Regions from separate parts of the Homo sapiens genome. Here all the other regions are linked to region 3. The links come from fine-mapping of genetic effects on gene expression. A gene starts in region 3. Each other region holds a variant in brackets. All regions are shown on one strand. Distances are from middle to middle.

Region 1 (5,229 bases), 36 kb after region 3:
ATAACCTTTGTAAATTCCCACCCTATCATAATTATTAACCTCACCATAATATTCATTTATACTCACTAGGTAGGATGGTATTCTGACTGCTGATAGGATGATAATACAATATAGATTTCTGGCATTAAGACAGTTTATTTAAGTAATCACATTTCTTATGAGACAATAACCCACTCTATTTTACTTGGTTCTGTGGAAATGATGCTATATTTATTAGTACAGTGTCTCACCTTTCCTCATAGTTTTTTGAAATTAAACTATGTGAGCATTTAAGTTCTGGTCCAATTTAAAGCAAAAAACATTTTAGCCTTATGTAAAGGAGTCATTGTGAGTATATGCAAGCATTTGTTAGTGAGACAGGGAGGAAAAAGAAAGCAAAATTATTACCAAGACATGTGCATAAAAGAGAGTACTGTCTACACTTGTCTGTAAAATGATTAGGAGCTCAATTTGAGTCAGGATTGATTTAGGCTTCATAACAACTGTAGCCACAATAATACTGGTCCCTAATATTTTTATTCCTTCCATATACCCGTGCTTACAAAAGATCAATATAGTCAATTACTAAAAGGAGATAGGACCAAAAAAAAAAAAAAGCTATGAAAATTTTGTCTCCTTATTTGACAACCCTTTTTCACAGTAATGCGTATGCCAACGCACTCTTGGTTGAGACCTGTTTATCAGCATACACTCCTAACCTAAAGGAGTTTTTCCTCCATCTCCCTTTTATAAAAACAATTAAAAAGAATAACTGCCAACATATAAGAAAAATAGATAATGGTCATATCTAGCAAAGCCATTCCAAGTTTAAAGCAGTGCCAATAAAAGACCACTAATTCTATACTTTATGATTTCCAATTTCTTCTTATGCTGGCACTGACGTCAAACAAGAATATTTATTAGAATAAGACTGAGGTATTCAGTGTAATTTTAATTCAAAATATATTTAAAATGTCAATTTAACTAGTACATTTAGCTTGTTTTGTCTAATGCAACTAAAGTGAATTAGAGCTGGGCACTGTGGCTCACGCCTGTAATCCCAGCACTCTGGGAGGCCAAGGTGGGTGGATCACATGAGGTCAGGAGTTCGAGACCAATCTGGCTAACAGGCTGAAACCCCATCTCTACTAAAAATATAAAAATTAGCCAGGCATGGTGGCGGGCGCCTGTAATCTCAGTTATTCAGGAGGCTGAGGCAGGAGAATCACTTGAACCCAGGAGGCAGCGGTTACAGTTAGCTGAGACCGCGCCACTGTACTCCAGCCTGGGTGACGGAGTGAGACTCTGTCTCAAAAAATAAATAAAATAAAGTGAATTAGCAATTTTTTAAAAAATGACAAGTACCGTAATGTGATAAGAAATGGGGATAAAGAAAGAAATGTACAATGAACATCTGAGCTTTGTACAATGTACAAAATGTATAAATGTACAATAAGCTTTCTAGTTTGAAAAGTAAAATGTACAAGTGTTCTCTCAATTTAATGCTACAACAATCCCATGATTTAAAGATGAAGACACATTTACTGGTCTCAGGTTCATCAGAGAGCTGGAATTTGAATTTGGGTGTTTCAAATGTTCTTTCACCAAATTTTAAAACTATATCGAAATATATCTGAATGCAAAAGACAAGCCATTTGTATTTTGCTTGTGTATCACCTCTGCTGCTCGCATTTCTGCATTCCTGAAACCCAAAGTAGGACTTATTTAAGACAGACACTTCGAAGAGAATGGTCATAAAATAGCTTCTTCTGGGGACCAAAAGAGAACATGAATAATGTCTATTTTTTTGATGGTCCACATGCCAATTCAATTTTTTCTTTGATTATCAACAATCCTCTTCTGTTACCAATCTTTTTTAGATTCCCAACCACATTTGTTTTTCCTCCTCTTTAACTTTTCTCTTTTAAATCCGCCCCTCATACATGTTTTCATGCCATCTTTAATGGCCATACTCACTGCCCTCTCTCAAAGAACATTTATACCAGCGGTTTTTTGAAACAATGTTAATGCTTTTATCAAATAAAAATGTAGATTATCAATGTTTTATACAAATTGAAGAACAGACAGAATGGGGAGTTGAGAGTACCTGTGTCAAACTCATGTTGCACGAATAAAGCCTCCTTAAACTACAGCATGCAAGATCTTTATTTCTTTATATCATAATCTTAATTATAACAATAAATTAATGGCAAATGAAAATGAATACTAATAAAGTAATAATAAAGCATAATATAAAAATTCTTAGTATCTTTATTTTGAGAGCATTCTTGGCAATCACTAAAACCCTAGAGAAAGGCTTGTGAATTTACACTCTATTAATTTTAATACATTATAATTACTTCTTTTAATTTTTTTCCTCCATTCTATTTGTACAATTAAAACCTTTTTTTTTGAGATGGAGTCTTGCTTTGTCGCCAGGCTGGAGTGCAGTGGCACAATCTCGGCTCACTGCAACCTCCGCCTCCCGGGTTCAAGCAATCCTCTTGCCTCAGCCTCCTGAGTAGCTGGGACTACAGGCATGCACCACCACGCCCAGCT[A/G]ATTTTTGTAATTTTAGTAGAGATGGGGTTTCACCATGTTGGCTAGGATGGTCTCGATCTCTTGACCTTGTGATCTGCCCGCCTTGGCCTCCCAAAGTGCTGGGATTACAGGCATGAGCTACCGCGCCCAGCCTAAAACCTCTTTAAAGTTTTATTTGAATTTGTTAACATTAAAATACCCTGAGTATATAAATAAAGAATTTAAATTGGAGATTACTAATCCTGTAAACTTGAATTTCCAAGGGACGTCAAATATTAGAGTGTATTTAAATTAAATTATAGGAAGTAGAGAAATAAAATATTATTTATCAGGAATATGTTTAGGTGCCACACTACATTAAAGGATGGAGAAGAAATTGAGAAATCATTCATTTCATAATTCAGACACTAGTTTCTTACCTATTATAGATAGCCGTTTTTTCCTCTCTGCTCCAAATACTGTATTATCCAAATCTTCTAGTGATGGCAATGGTTCTAAATTAGTAGCCTACAAAGGAGAAAAGACAGTTAATGCTATTCTTCCTCCTTGGGGCTTTAAACAGAATCCTCTCCCCTACCAAGTACAAAACATTTTATATTGTTTGTGAGCCTTAATCAAATCCTCTACTCTTTGAAATTTTAATTCTAACATAATTCTAAGTTGTCAGTTTCTATTAGCTTCGTATGTACAACATATTATACTTATTTATAACTATGACTGTGGTTTTTGAGGAGTAAGGATATTAAAGTATAGTAATTAAAGGATGTAAGTTTACATTTAATCATAATGAAAATATTGCAATGATTATAGAATATAATTATGTTTCATATGTTAACTTTTACAAGCCTAAGTCCTATAATTCTTACTGAAAAAAATATCCCAAATCATACCTGTGTACTTCCATTTATTACAAGTAATATCTTGAGGCTCTTCATATGAATACTACGATCCAGCAGTTCCACAGCTTTGTCCAAGTCATCTTGAGTAGTTAATGGAATTACCAACTAAAAACAAACATAAGGAACCATGCAGCTATCTCACCAGGTCAAGTTCTTCCATGAGCATCTCCACTACTAAGGAATTACAAATGTCAAAATACCTTGCTCTTTGATTTGTTACTATGATGAAAGTCTGAATGTGTATGTGTATATTGTTTTGCCCTCCTCATTCTACCGCCACTAAAATCTTAGAATGAACATGTATGTTTTTAAATTTTTCTTTATTAATCATTACATTCTTCTAGAAAATAACATTTAAAGATTAATTTTCTAGGATATTTCCATAATATTGCTAAATTTAAGTTATAGTATGTTCGCCCCTAAAAAGAATGAAGAAGTACAGACAAAGACCATATGAAATAAAGGTACTACTTTTCTTCTGTATAGATGAAACTCAGTTCTTTTTTCAATAGTAACCACAAATTTGCACTCTCAGCTGGTGTGCTCTTCAACATACCAACATCCTGAGCACCTGCCATGGAGGACAGCTGCCATGGAGGGGTACCACTAGTAACATATCTGCAATCTACAGCCCACCTAGAGTTCTTCTCTCTGAGCCTAGTGACCTGACCACTATACCCTAAAACAAATAAGCTAATGAGTTAACTATTCCATAGTAAACCCTGCATGTGGAATCTGCTTTCACTAGTCTTCTCATGCAGCAGATGTTATAGAGGACAAAAGCACCTAAGAGGTCTATGAGAAAAAGTGTAATTCATACAATTTAAGAAATAAAAATATGTCCTTTTTTTAAAAAAAAAGTCAATTTAGTAACTTAAGAAGACTCTGTCAATAACTTCAAAGTATATTCCATTTCATTGAAGGAGGAACAGAATAAAAACAAGTGAACATATTCTGCACTAGTTAACCTGCTCTACTCAGCACAATATATGAGCCATTAAAATGCAAGGCTGAATTAATTTGGGGTCTCTACAGTATAAATTCTTTGAAGACAAGGACCCCCTACACCAGCAATGAGCAAAGAGCAGACAACCTGGTAAATGCTGTCTAATAAATCTCACAGTGTTAAAAGCTCAATCTGAACCCAAACCCACTAGCTGGCATGGTGTATGTTCATTCTGCAGACTTCTTTGTGAAAAAAGTCCTTGGGGTTTTTGATTTTTTGTTTTGAAATGGAGTCTCACTGTCATTCAGGCTGGAGTACAGTGGCAATCTCAGCTCACTGCAATCTGCCTCCTGGTTTCAAGTGATTCTCCTGCCTCAGCCTCCCCAGTAGCTGGGTTTACAGGCATGCACCACCACGCGTGGCTAATTTTTGTATTTTTAGCAGAGACAGGGTTTCAACATGTTGACCAGGCTGGTCTCAAACTCCTGACCTCAAATTATCTGCCCGCCTGGGCCTTCCAAAGTGCTGGGATTACAGGCGTGAGCCACCATGCCCAGCCAAAAAAGTCCTTGTTATAAGAAAGGCTGCCAAACACGAATATAAAGAAGGATTTATGTGAATTCCATCAGACAATCTGCTTGCATTTACTTACTCTGTTGTTAAAATATATTCCCAATTTCTGTTTGTAGCTAATTTTGTATTACTGTAAGGGACCGACTAACTGGGCTCTTTTCGCTCTATGAGAATTTTTTTCTAATAAAATACAATTATTAACTGTTTGGTATCATAGAACAAGCCTGATCTACTGATCTACTTAAACACATTTCTATTTCCCACCAATTATGAAACATATTGGTATATCTTGC
Region 2 (5,229 bases), 100 kb after region 3:
CTTCCCCCTCACTTTCCATCATGATTGAAGTTTCCTGAGGCCTCCCAGCCTTGCTTTCTGTACAGCCTGTGTAACTGTGAGTCAATTAAACCTCTTTTCCTCTTAAATTACCCAGTCTTAGGTAGTTCTTTATAGCAATGTGAGAACAGACTAATACACCTATTATTACGAACTTGTATTATTAGTATAGTACATTTGTCATAACTAGTGAACCAATATTGATGCATTGTCATTAACTGAAGTCCATACTTTATTCAGATGTCCTCAGTTTTTTCCTAATGCCCTTTTTGTGTTCCAGGAGCCCACACTATGCTTAGTCATCACGTCTCCTTAGGCTTCTCTTGGCTGTGAGTTCCCTTGTTTTTGATGGCCTTGTGCTAAGGAATACTGGTTAGGTGTTTGGTAGAATATTCTTCAATTGTGAATCATGTAATGTTTTTCTCATGATGACACTGAGGTTATGGGTTCTGGGGAAGGAGACCACTGAAGTAAAGTGCCATCTTTATCACATCCTATCAAAGGTAGTCCATTGTCTTAGTCCATTTTGTGCCCTGTAACAAAATACCACAGACTGGGTAATGTGTAATGAACAGAAATTTATCTCTCACAGTTCTGAAGGCTGGGAAGTCCAAGATTGAGGGGCCCACATCTGGCAAGAACCTTCTTGCTGTGTCATCCTGTGGGGGAAGGGCAAAGAGAAGATGAGAGAAAGAGCAAGAAGAGTCAAACTCATCCTTTTATAAGGTGCCCACCCTAGATAATGACATTAATCCATTCATGACGGCTCTCCCCTCATAACTTAATCATAACTTAAACACCTCTTAAAGGTCCTACCTCCTAACATTGTTGCATTGGGGATCAAGTTTCCAAAACATGACCTTTGGGGGACATATTCAAACCATAGCAGGTATATACTGTCAGTATGATTTATGACTTGGTGTTGAGCTTGATCACCTGCCTGAGATAGTGTTTGTCAGGTTTCTCCCCCATAAAGCTACTCTTTATTCACCTCTTTCCATACTATACTCTTTGCAAGGAAGTCACTATGCTCAGCCCACACCTAAGGAGTGGGGAGCTATGCTCCACCTCCTTGTGTGTGAAGTATCTGCATAAATTACTAGGAATTCTTCTGCATGTGAGATCTGTCTCTTCTCTCCTGTTTACTTATGTAATCTTTTATTTATATTAATATAGAATTGTGGGTATATAACTTATGCTCTGGGTTATAATCTAATACTACATTACTTATTTTGTTGCTCTAATTATTCTGGGTTTGGCCATTGGTAGCTCTTTGATTTGTCTCCTGTGTCCCTTTGACACCCATCATTATGATTTTTTTTTTCCTTTTTCAGCACTTCTTTGCTTTCTGGCACTGCCAGCGCTCCAAAATCATCTTGAATATTTCCTGTCCCAGTCTAGAATCAGCCATTTTTCCAAAGGGCCCTGGTTTCTTTTGTTGGAGAATGGTGTTAGAGACCAATATCTGGTGCTAGGTGTGCTAAGGATTCTCTTTTCATTAAGGATAGTATTTCCAGGGCCAGGCGCAGTGGCTCACACCTGTAATCCCAGCACTTTGGGAGGCCGAGGCAGGTGGATCACCTGAGGTCAGGAGTTCAAGACCAGCCTGACCAATATGGAGAAACCCCATCTCTACTAAAAATGCAAAAAATTGGCTGGGCATGGTGGCATATGCCTGTAATCCCAGCTACTCAGGAGGCTGAGGTAGGAGAATTGCTTGAACCTGGGAGGCGGAGGTTGCAGTGAGCTGAGATCATGCCATTGCACTCTAGCCTGGGCAACAAGAGTGAAACTCTGTCTCAAAAAAAAAAAAATAGTGTTTCCCATCAGCCTCCCAGAAGACTACCCATTTTGTTTTTGCAGCAATGTCTGCTAATTGTGCCCCCAAATTCATTCTCCTCTTCCCATTGTAATCAAATTTTATCTGAGCATATAGGACTCTCATAATAAAGAGTTCATTCCCTAGCCTCCCTTGCAGCTAAATGTGACCAGGTGACTAAGTAATGGCAAAAGGGAAGTCAACTGAAGTGTGTCCATCCAGGGACCTTCACTGAGAGTCCCTTTCTTAAGAGACTACTGCTTTTACATCTTTCCTCGTCCCTTCCTCCCACACTGGAGTACTTGCAGGCCATCTTGGAGAGTCAGGACATGGGGCATACACAGGAATGGTGGCTCTGGGAGCAGAATCCCCTCCCTAATCTGGACCACAGGGCTGTGTAGTTTCTCATGGGAGATGTAAATGACTGTCCCTGGTAGCTGAACTGACTGCTAATAGTATCTTGTTGGCTGGAGTTGGGTCACATGGTTATGCATGCATAGAAGTCAGGATCACCATGATGGGTTCAGCCCACACGAGGACCACCGGGGGCTGGGCACACTGCCTGGCTATATCTAAGCAGAAGCCGGATTAGGTTACAAAGGAGCTGAGAGATGGATGGTTGTTGCCTAGCAGCCAACTGTGTTGGCTCTGAGAAGCTCATGGAGAGGCAAGACTTGGGGGACCAGAGTGGACTGTAGGGCCTACCCCATATATAAATGATGTTCCACAAATCTATTATGATTATCCCCAGGGCCACTTCACTGTTACAAGAAGCAAAACATTAGTAAATCTGATTTTTAAAAGTTCACAGTGCTGCCACAGCCAAACAAAAGTTATTTCTGGGATTTCTGCTGTGTGGAATGCCCACAAAGTTTTCTAAGTGTGGAAAGAGGCAATGTGACAAGATTTCTAACAGACAGTTGTCTTGAATTCTCTGTGATCTTGATCAGCTCTAATTCTTTTATCCATCAGTTGCTAGTACATTAACTTCTTACTTTAACATTATGTTTGTTATATATTTTCCATTGTTACACATATTTATAATAGAAAATATGGAAAACAGGAGGAAAAGAAAAAGCTCATTCCTTCTATAGTTCTGTTTCTATTCAATTTTTTCTCTATTCGTAAATCTTTGTTGTGCTGGTATTTTTTTATTTTTAGATACGTTTTTAAATCGTTCTTAGGTATTAATAGTTGTGATCTGTCCTATACATGCAATTTTGTATCTTACAGTTTTCACTTCACATGGCATAAGTAGTTTCTTTTTT[C/CT]TTTTTTTTTTTTTTTTTGAGACAGGGTGTCGCTTTGTCACCCAGGCTGGAGTGCAGTAGTGTCATCTCGGCTCACTGCAACCCTCACCTCCCAGGTTCAAGTGATTCTCTCACCTTAGCCTCCCAGGTAGCTGGGATTACAGGTGTGTGCCACCATCCCTGGCTAATTTTTGTAGGCTTTTTTTTTTTTTTTTTTTTGAGTTGAAGTCTCGCTCTGTTGTCCAGGCTGGAGTGCAATGGCACAATCTCAGCTCACTGCAACCTCCGCCTCCCAGGTTCAAGCAAATTCTCCTGCCTCAGCCTCCTGAGTAGCTGGGATTACAGGCACGTGCCACCATGCCCAGCTAATTTTTGTACTTTTAGTAGAGACGGGGTTTCACCATGTTGGCCAGGATGGTCTCGATCTCCTGACCTGGTGATCCACCCACCTCAGCCTCCCAAAGTGCTGGGATTACAGGCGTGAGCCACCACGCCCAGCCGGAAAAGGAAACTCTTATACACTGTTGGTAGAATGTAAATTAGTACAACCACTGTGGAAAACAGTATGGAGATTTCTCAAAAGACTCAAAATGGAACTACCATATGATCCAGCAATCTCACTACTGGGTATTTATCCAAAATAAAGGAAATCAGTATATCAAAGGGATAGCTGCATTCCCATGTTTATTGCAGCACTATTCACAATAGCCAAGATATGGAATCACCCAAGTGTTCATCAAGAGTTGAATGAGTAAAGAAAATGTGGGCCGGGCGCGGTGGCTCACGCCTGTAATCCAAGCACTTTGGGAGGCTGAGGTGGGCGGATCACAAGGTCAGGAGATCGAGACCATCCTGGCTAACACGGTGAAACCCCGACTCTACTAAAAATACAAAAAAATTAGCCAGGCATTGTGGCGGGTGCCTGTAGTCCCAGCTACTCGGGAGGCTGAGGCAGGAGAATGGCGTGAACCCGGGAGGCAGAGCTTGCAGTGAGCCAAGTTCACACCACTGGACTCCAGCCTGGGCGACAGAGCGAGACTCCGTCTCAAAAAAAAAAAAAGAAAAGAAAATGTGGTATATATACACAATGGAATACTATGAAGCCATTGAAAACAATGAAATCTTGTTATTTGTAGCAACACGGATGATCATTATGTTAAGTGAAATACTCAAGGCACAGAAGGAAAAATATTGTATGTTCTCACTGATATGTGGAGCTAATAAAACATTTGATCTCATGGAGGTAGAGAGTAGAATGATAGTTACCAGAGGCTGGGAAGGGTGAGCGGTGAGGAGGACGAGGGAAAAAAGAGAGGTTGGTTAATGGGTACAAACATACAATTAAATAGAAGGAGTAAGTTCTGGTGTTTGATAGCACAGTAGGGTGACTATAGTTAACAATAATATATATATTGAAATGGTTAGAATAAAAGTTCTGAAAGTTTCTAACAAAAAGAAATGATAAATGTTCAAAGCGGTAGATATCCTAAATACCCTGATTTGGTCATTGCACATTGTATGCATGTATCAAAATATCACATGTACCTGATAAATATGTACAATTATTATGTATTGTCTGGGCACAGTGGCTCATGCCTGTAATTCCAGTACTTTGGGAGGTCGAGGCAGGCGGATTGCTTGAGCTATAGAGTTGGAGACCAGCCTGGGCAACATGGTAAAACCCTGTCTCTACAAAAAAAAAAAAAAAAAAAAAAAAAAAAGCCTGGGCCTGGGAGGCAGAGGTTGCAGTGAGCTGTGATTGTGCCACTGTACTCCAGTCCGGGCACCAGAGTGAGACTCTTTCTCAAAATAAAAGTTATTATTTATTGATAAATTTTTTTTAAAAAAATGCCAAATTGCTAACAAGGATAACCCATTTTTCGGAAGTTGGCTATTTGCTGGGAGCCTACTTATGTTCTCCACCACTGCAGCATCCCCCTAATGGTCTGATGGTCCACTCCTTACTTCCAGTGTCTTTGTCTTGACAGCAAGAAGAGAATTGTCTGTTTCTTCCCTTTCTCCTGTTTAATTATCTTATTGTCTTCCCATAATTTTCAATTCACATATAAGGAAAAAGTGGCAGAGAAAGGTCAGGTGGCTGTCACCAGGCCCCAAGGACACTTAATGGAGCAGCCAGAGAGGACC
Region 3 (5,229 bases):
CAGGCTGGTCTTGAACTCCTGACCCCAGGTGGTCCACCCACCTCAGCCACCCAAAGTGCTGGGATTACAGGAGTGAGCCACTGCACCTGGCCGGGCACGCTTTCACATCACAGGAAAAGAGAGTTCTCTCCAGGACTCCTGCAGCTTCTCTGGGACTGGCTGCAGTACCATACTGAATTCCTGTGGCACTCTTCTGCCACTCCAGATCCCAAGGTCTGAATCTGACTCCTTTTGGATCAGCCAAAGGCAATGAAAGCCACTGTCCATCTCTTTTAAATGGCATTCACCCATCTCGCAGAAGAAACCTAGCATGTTCAACTATTAATCACATGGAACCCTCTTTGTTTTGTCAAAAACATCTGAAGTTGTTTTTGACTTTCCCTCATGGAACTTGTTGACTATTGGTCTCCTGCAGATACTTAGCTTTAGACAGAGTTTACCACCTGTGTTAGTCAGCTTGGGCTGCCATAATAAAATTCCAGACTGGGTGGCTTCAACATTAGAACTGTATTTTCTCAGAGCTGTGGAGGCTGAAAGTCTATGATCAAGGTATCAGCCGATTCAGTTTCTGGTGAAGGCTCTTGTCTATGGACCACCTTCCCATTGTGTACTCACATGACAAGAAGGGCAGGTGAGAGAAAGCATGCTCCGGTGTCTCTTCTTAGGAGGACACTAATCATAGCGGATCACGACCTCATTTAGTCTTAACTACTTTCTTACTCCAAATACATTACCATTGGATATTAGGTTTTGAAGACAAAATTTGAGGGGAACACACACAATTCAGTCCCCAGCACACTCACTTTGGGCTGCATTTCCAAATTCTCCCTGGCTACAATGGGCCTGAATTAGTAGCCCCTCTGTGTTAATACCCACAGCTGGGAGCGGCTCATGAGAAGCGTGGCCTCACCCAGAACACAATGCTGGATCCAGAGTGTAGCGGCTCATGAGAAGCATGGCCTCACCCAGAACACAATGCTGGATCCAGAGTGTAGCGGCTGGGGTAATCAGTCGTTATGCTCCCCACAGGAAATCTGAATGGCACATTCTCATGGCTGCCACAGGCTGACAACATGGAGCACCTATGCCTATTGTTACATTAGCAGGGCAGGTGGAATTGCTGGTCTCAGCTGTCACTTGCCTTAATAAACTGCATAATTCCATCAGGGACTCCAGTCTTGCTGAGCTTCCTGAGGTACTCGGTGATGTCACTGGTTTGCAGCCCAACGCTGACAGCTGCATACAAGGAGTAGGCAGTTAGTTTGTACTCATGCACATGGGTTGGTCGGCACACTGGCTCTGCAATAGCCACCAAGAAGTCTTGGGCATATTTGTAAACTGGAGAGAAGGCTTCCAAGAAGATATGGCCATCGGGAGCCTGAGAGATACCAAATGGACAAAACAGACAAGGAAACATGAGTTGCAGAGACTACTGGGCTCTTGCCCATATCATTATCAAGAAAGAATAAGCTGCCCAACACCACAGATATTCTTGCAAGCACTCCTTCAGACAACTGTGGGGCCTGTTACATTAATCAGATACAGAAGAGTAAAGAAAAATAGAAGAAAGTGTTTCCAAAGTCAACAGCTGTTTCCTACTATTCTGCACAGAGAAAGCCCATCTTACTGGCTATCCTCAAGTTACCTTTTGGCTAGATTTCAACTAAATGTATAACATTAATTATTTAAAGTAGAGCAAAAGCTTGCTACCGAACATGTCTTCCATTATTTGAGGAAACAAACTGTTACATGATAAATGCTATTTATTCGGCAGATAAAAGGATTCACTACATGGGGTAGGGCTGGGGAAGGAGTGAGAGTAAACCGAGGGGTTAGAGCTGTTGGAAGCCCAGGTCCGGCCGCCACACGTGTGCGCAACTGCTCGCTGTTGCCTTGGGCTGTTCCAACGTGTGTGGATGAAAATTCTCTCCCGGCCAGTTCTAGGGGCAGTATCCTGAATGTCAGTTTTGACTCTGAGGATGCCCAAGATTTAGCTGCCGCTCCGCACACTCCTGGGCCCTGCCCAAGCTAAGGGCATGCTTACCACCCAGAGGGGCCTGGAGGTGTGGTCGTCCTTCAGCGGCATTTGCAGCCTGTAGTCCTTGGCTCCATATTCATCCACTTTGGTGCCTGACTCATCCACCTGCTTCCCCGCCGCCGAGGGAACCGCTTCCTGAGGGTCGTTCCCCGGGGCGTCCTCTTCATCATCCTCTTCATCCTCATAGTGCCGCTTCCTGGATTTCTTCTTGTCTGCAAGATACCAACACAGAAGTAAGCCCAGCAGGAGCCTTCAGGGTTCCCTCCGCACCGCTTGGCAGCATTTCACCTGCGCCGCCGCAAACTCCTAGCTAAGAGCCACCTGCATCCCGCAGGCGTTGCGCCCCTCACCCGTCTCCCCTAGGCCGAGTTCGCTGGGCTGCGCCCAGGTCCAGCATCTCTCCCGCCCAAAGGCCTGTCCCAACGGGGTGCGCGCGGGAGGGCCAGCAGGGTCGGCCGGCGCAGAGGCCCGGAGCAGCTCCGAGGCAGAGCGGGGGGCAGGGCCGGCAAGGGCAGTCGTGGCTGAGCGTGCCCGCGCAACGTCTCACCGCGGTCCGCTCGGTCTCTTTTGCCCATGGCAGCTACAGCAGCAGAGAGAAGATGACCCCGCTCCCACAGGCCCGCCGCGGCATCCGCTCTGGGGGGACTTCCGGCTCAATCCGGAAGCTCCCTGTTGTCCACACAGGATGTCCCGCCTCTAGGCGCCGTGATGTGGGTGGCTGGAAGAGCGGAGAGCCAGCGACCGCCGATCTGTTAGCTCGTGCGACCCAGCGGCGGGGGTCCTCCACTGTTCATTTCTCTACAACTGAAGGAAAATACTGTGTGTTGAGCACCTGTGTAGTGCGCGAATTAAAGGCCTCATCCTTCTGGAACTTAAATTTTAATGAAGCCATGTGGGCAATAAATGTGTGTGTGAGAGAGAGAGAGAGAGAATGTGACCTGAGTCCATGGGTAAGGAAGAATTCTTTTTTTTAATTAAAAAAAATTTGGCTGAGCACGGTGGCTCACGCCTGTAATTCCAGCACTTTGGGAGGCTGAGGTGGGTGGATCACTTGAGGTCAGGAGTTCGAGGCCAGCCTGGCCAACATGGTGAAACCCCATCTCTGCGAAAAATACAAAAAAAAGTAGCCAGGCATGGTGGCACACGCCTGTAGTCTAAGCTACTTGGGAGGCTGAGATGGGAGAATCTCTTGAACCCAGAAGGTAAAGGCTGCACTGAGCTGAGATTGCACCACTGCACTACAGCCTGGGCGACAGGCCGAGAGTTCGTCTCAAAAAAAATTTTTTTCTTTTTTTTTTTTTTTTTTTTGAGACGGAGTCTCGCCCTGTCGCCCAGGCTGGAATGCAGTGGCGCGATTTCAGCTCACTGCAAGCTCCGCCTCCCGGGTTCATGCCATTCTCATGTCTCAGCCTAAATAAAGCAGATTACCCTCAATAATGCGGGTGGGCCTCATCCAAATCAGTTGAAGGCCTTAAGAGCAAAGACAGGTTTCTCAAGGAAAAAGGAATTCTGCCTCCAGACTGCAACACAGAAAGTTCTGACTGAGTTTCCAGCCTTTGGACTCAAAACTACAACATCAACTCGTACCTGAATTCCCAACTTGCCAACCCCCACAATTGCATGAGCCAATTCTTTAAAATCAATCAATCAATCTCGCTTGCTCAGTGGGCCTCTTGGTTCTGTTTCTCTGGAGAACGTAACACAGATTTTTGGTACGGGGAATAGGGTACTGCTGTAACAAATACCTAACAATGGGGAAGTGGTTTTCAAATTGGGTAATCGGTAGAGGCTGAAAGAATTTTGAGGCGCATGATAGAAAAGCCTCTATTGTCTTGAAGAGCCTTGGTAGAAGTATGGGCATTAAAGGTGATTCTGGTGACGGCTCAGATGGAAAGGAGAAATATGTTATTGAAACTGGAGGCAAGTGGTAGAGAGCTTGCCTGAATTGTATTCTGTTGGGTGGAAAGTAGAACTTATAAGTGATAAGCTTGGACATTTTGCTGAGGAAATTTCTACATGATGGTTCAAAGTGAGGCCTGGGCCAGGCGCGGTGGCTCACGCCTGTAATCCCAGCACTTTGGGAGGCCGAGGCAGGGGATCATAAGGTCAGGAGTTCAATACCAGCCTGGCCAATATGGTGAATCCCCGTCTCTACTAAAAATACAAAAATTAGCTGGGCGTGGTGTCGCGCGCCTGTAGTCTCAGCTGCTCAGGAGGCTGAGGCAGGAGGATCTCTTGAACTCAGGAGGCAGAAGTTGCAGTGAGCAGAGATCACGCCACTGCACTCCAGCCTGGGCAACAGAGCAAGACTCCGTCTCAAAAAAAAAAAAAAAAAAAACTGAGGCCTGCTTTCTCCTTATTGCTTATAGTGAAATGTGAGAAGAGATACACTGAAGGTGGAATTATTCAACAAAAAGGAACCAGAACTTGAAGATTTGGATCATTCTTATACTCACATTGTAAAAAAAAAAAAAAAAAAAAAAAAAAAAAAAAAAAAGAGAGAGAGAAAGTATGCTCTGGAGAAACACTAAGGATGTGGACAACCATTTATTTGCAAGAGATTAGGTGTGTGGCTTATAGACCCAATCACCCATCTCCACAGAAACCTGGACAGTTTTGACTAGGGTACATAGATGGGATGAAATGAAGGAAGGCTGTTGGACTCCCAGGATTCCACAGGTAGGAAAGGGATTGGCAGGGGCAGTTCAGAGGCCAGTGAGGCTGCTTCCGCCACCACAGGACTGAAAGGGACAGGCTTGGGTTTGAACCCACGGCCACCACCTCCTCAGTTCTGAGGGTGCGGGGCTGCAACCCCAGTGGGCCCTGAGGACAGAGGATCAAGCCAGTGAGGATTATTCTCAAGCCTTAAAATCCTGTCATTGGCCCTGTTAGGTGTCAGACTTTCTTGGCACCTCCAAGTCTTTTTCCTTCCCATTTCTCCCTTTTGGAATGGAATGTGTCTATCCTCTGCCTATACCATTGTAATTGGAAGCAGATAACTTGTCTGTTCTCATGGGTTCATAGATAGAAAGAAAATTTGCTCCAACAGGAAACCTAACCCAGAGTCAATTGATGTGGATGATTTGGGTGATGAGATTTGAACTGATATTTAGATGATACTGGACTTTGAGTTGATGCTAGAATGACTGACTTTTGTTGATGTTGAGATGGGGTGAATGTACTTTGCATGT

Alleles and levels. Alleles are on the strand shown, and positions count from the first base shown. SD is a standard deviation of normalised expression in the study named.
For the expression in tibial nerve of the gene that starts at base 2,676 in region 3, A is the high allele of the variant in region 1 and G is the other (moderate effect, 0.59 SD a copy in GTEx).
As copies of CT replace C in region 2, the expression in NK cells of the gene that starts at base 2,676 in region 3 goes up (moderate effect, 0.63 SD a copy in Schmiedel 2018).

What was found. PIP is the estimated chance that this variant, and not a neighbour inherited with it, causes the effect.
Region 1: its variant is the best candidate, but not a certain one, in a credible set for the expression of ERCC3 in tibial nerve (GTEx, PIP 0.88).
Region 2: its variant is the best candidate, but not a certain one, in a credible set for the expression of ERCC3 in NK cells (Schmiedel 2018, PIP 0.79).

The regions. Positions count from the first base shown.
Region 1 is chr2:127,326,984-127,332,212 of GRCh38, forward strand. MAP3K2 (mitogen-activated protein kinase kinase kinase 2) reads right to left here. Exons shown (of 17, transcript NM_001371910.2): 6 at 3,409-3,522; 7 at 2,938-3,025. Among named protein-coding and RNA genes, the nearest start is that of ERCC3, 35 kb to the left of the region's middle. The variant A/G (reference allele first, on the strand shown) is at 2,539.
Region 2 is chr2:127,392,326-127,397,554 of GRCh38, forward strand. The region is part of intron 3 of MAP3K2-DT (MAP3K2 divergent transcript); the gene reads left to right. Among named protein-coding and RNA genes, the nearest start is that of MAP3K2, 7.0 kb to the left of the region's middle. The variant C/CT (reference allele first, on the strand shown) is at 3,106.
Region 3 is chr2:127,291,469-127,296,697 of GRCh38, forward strand. It overlaps ERCC3 (ERCC excision repair 3, TFIIH core complex helicase subunit), which reads right to left and starts at 2,676. Exons shown (of 15, transcript NM_000122.2): 1 at 2,586-2,676; 2 at 2,045-2,250; 3 at 1,142-1,378. The coding sequence starts at 2,613.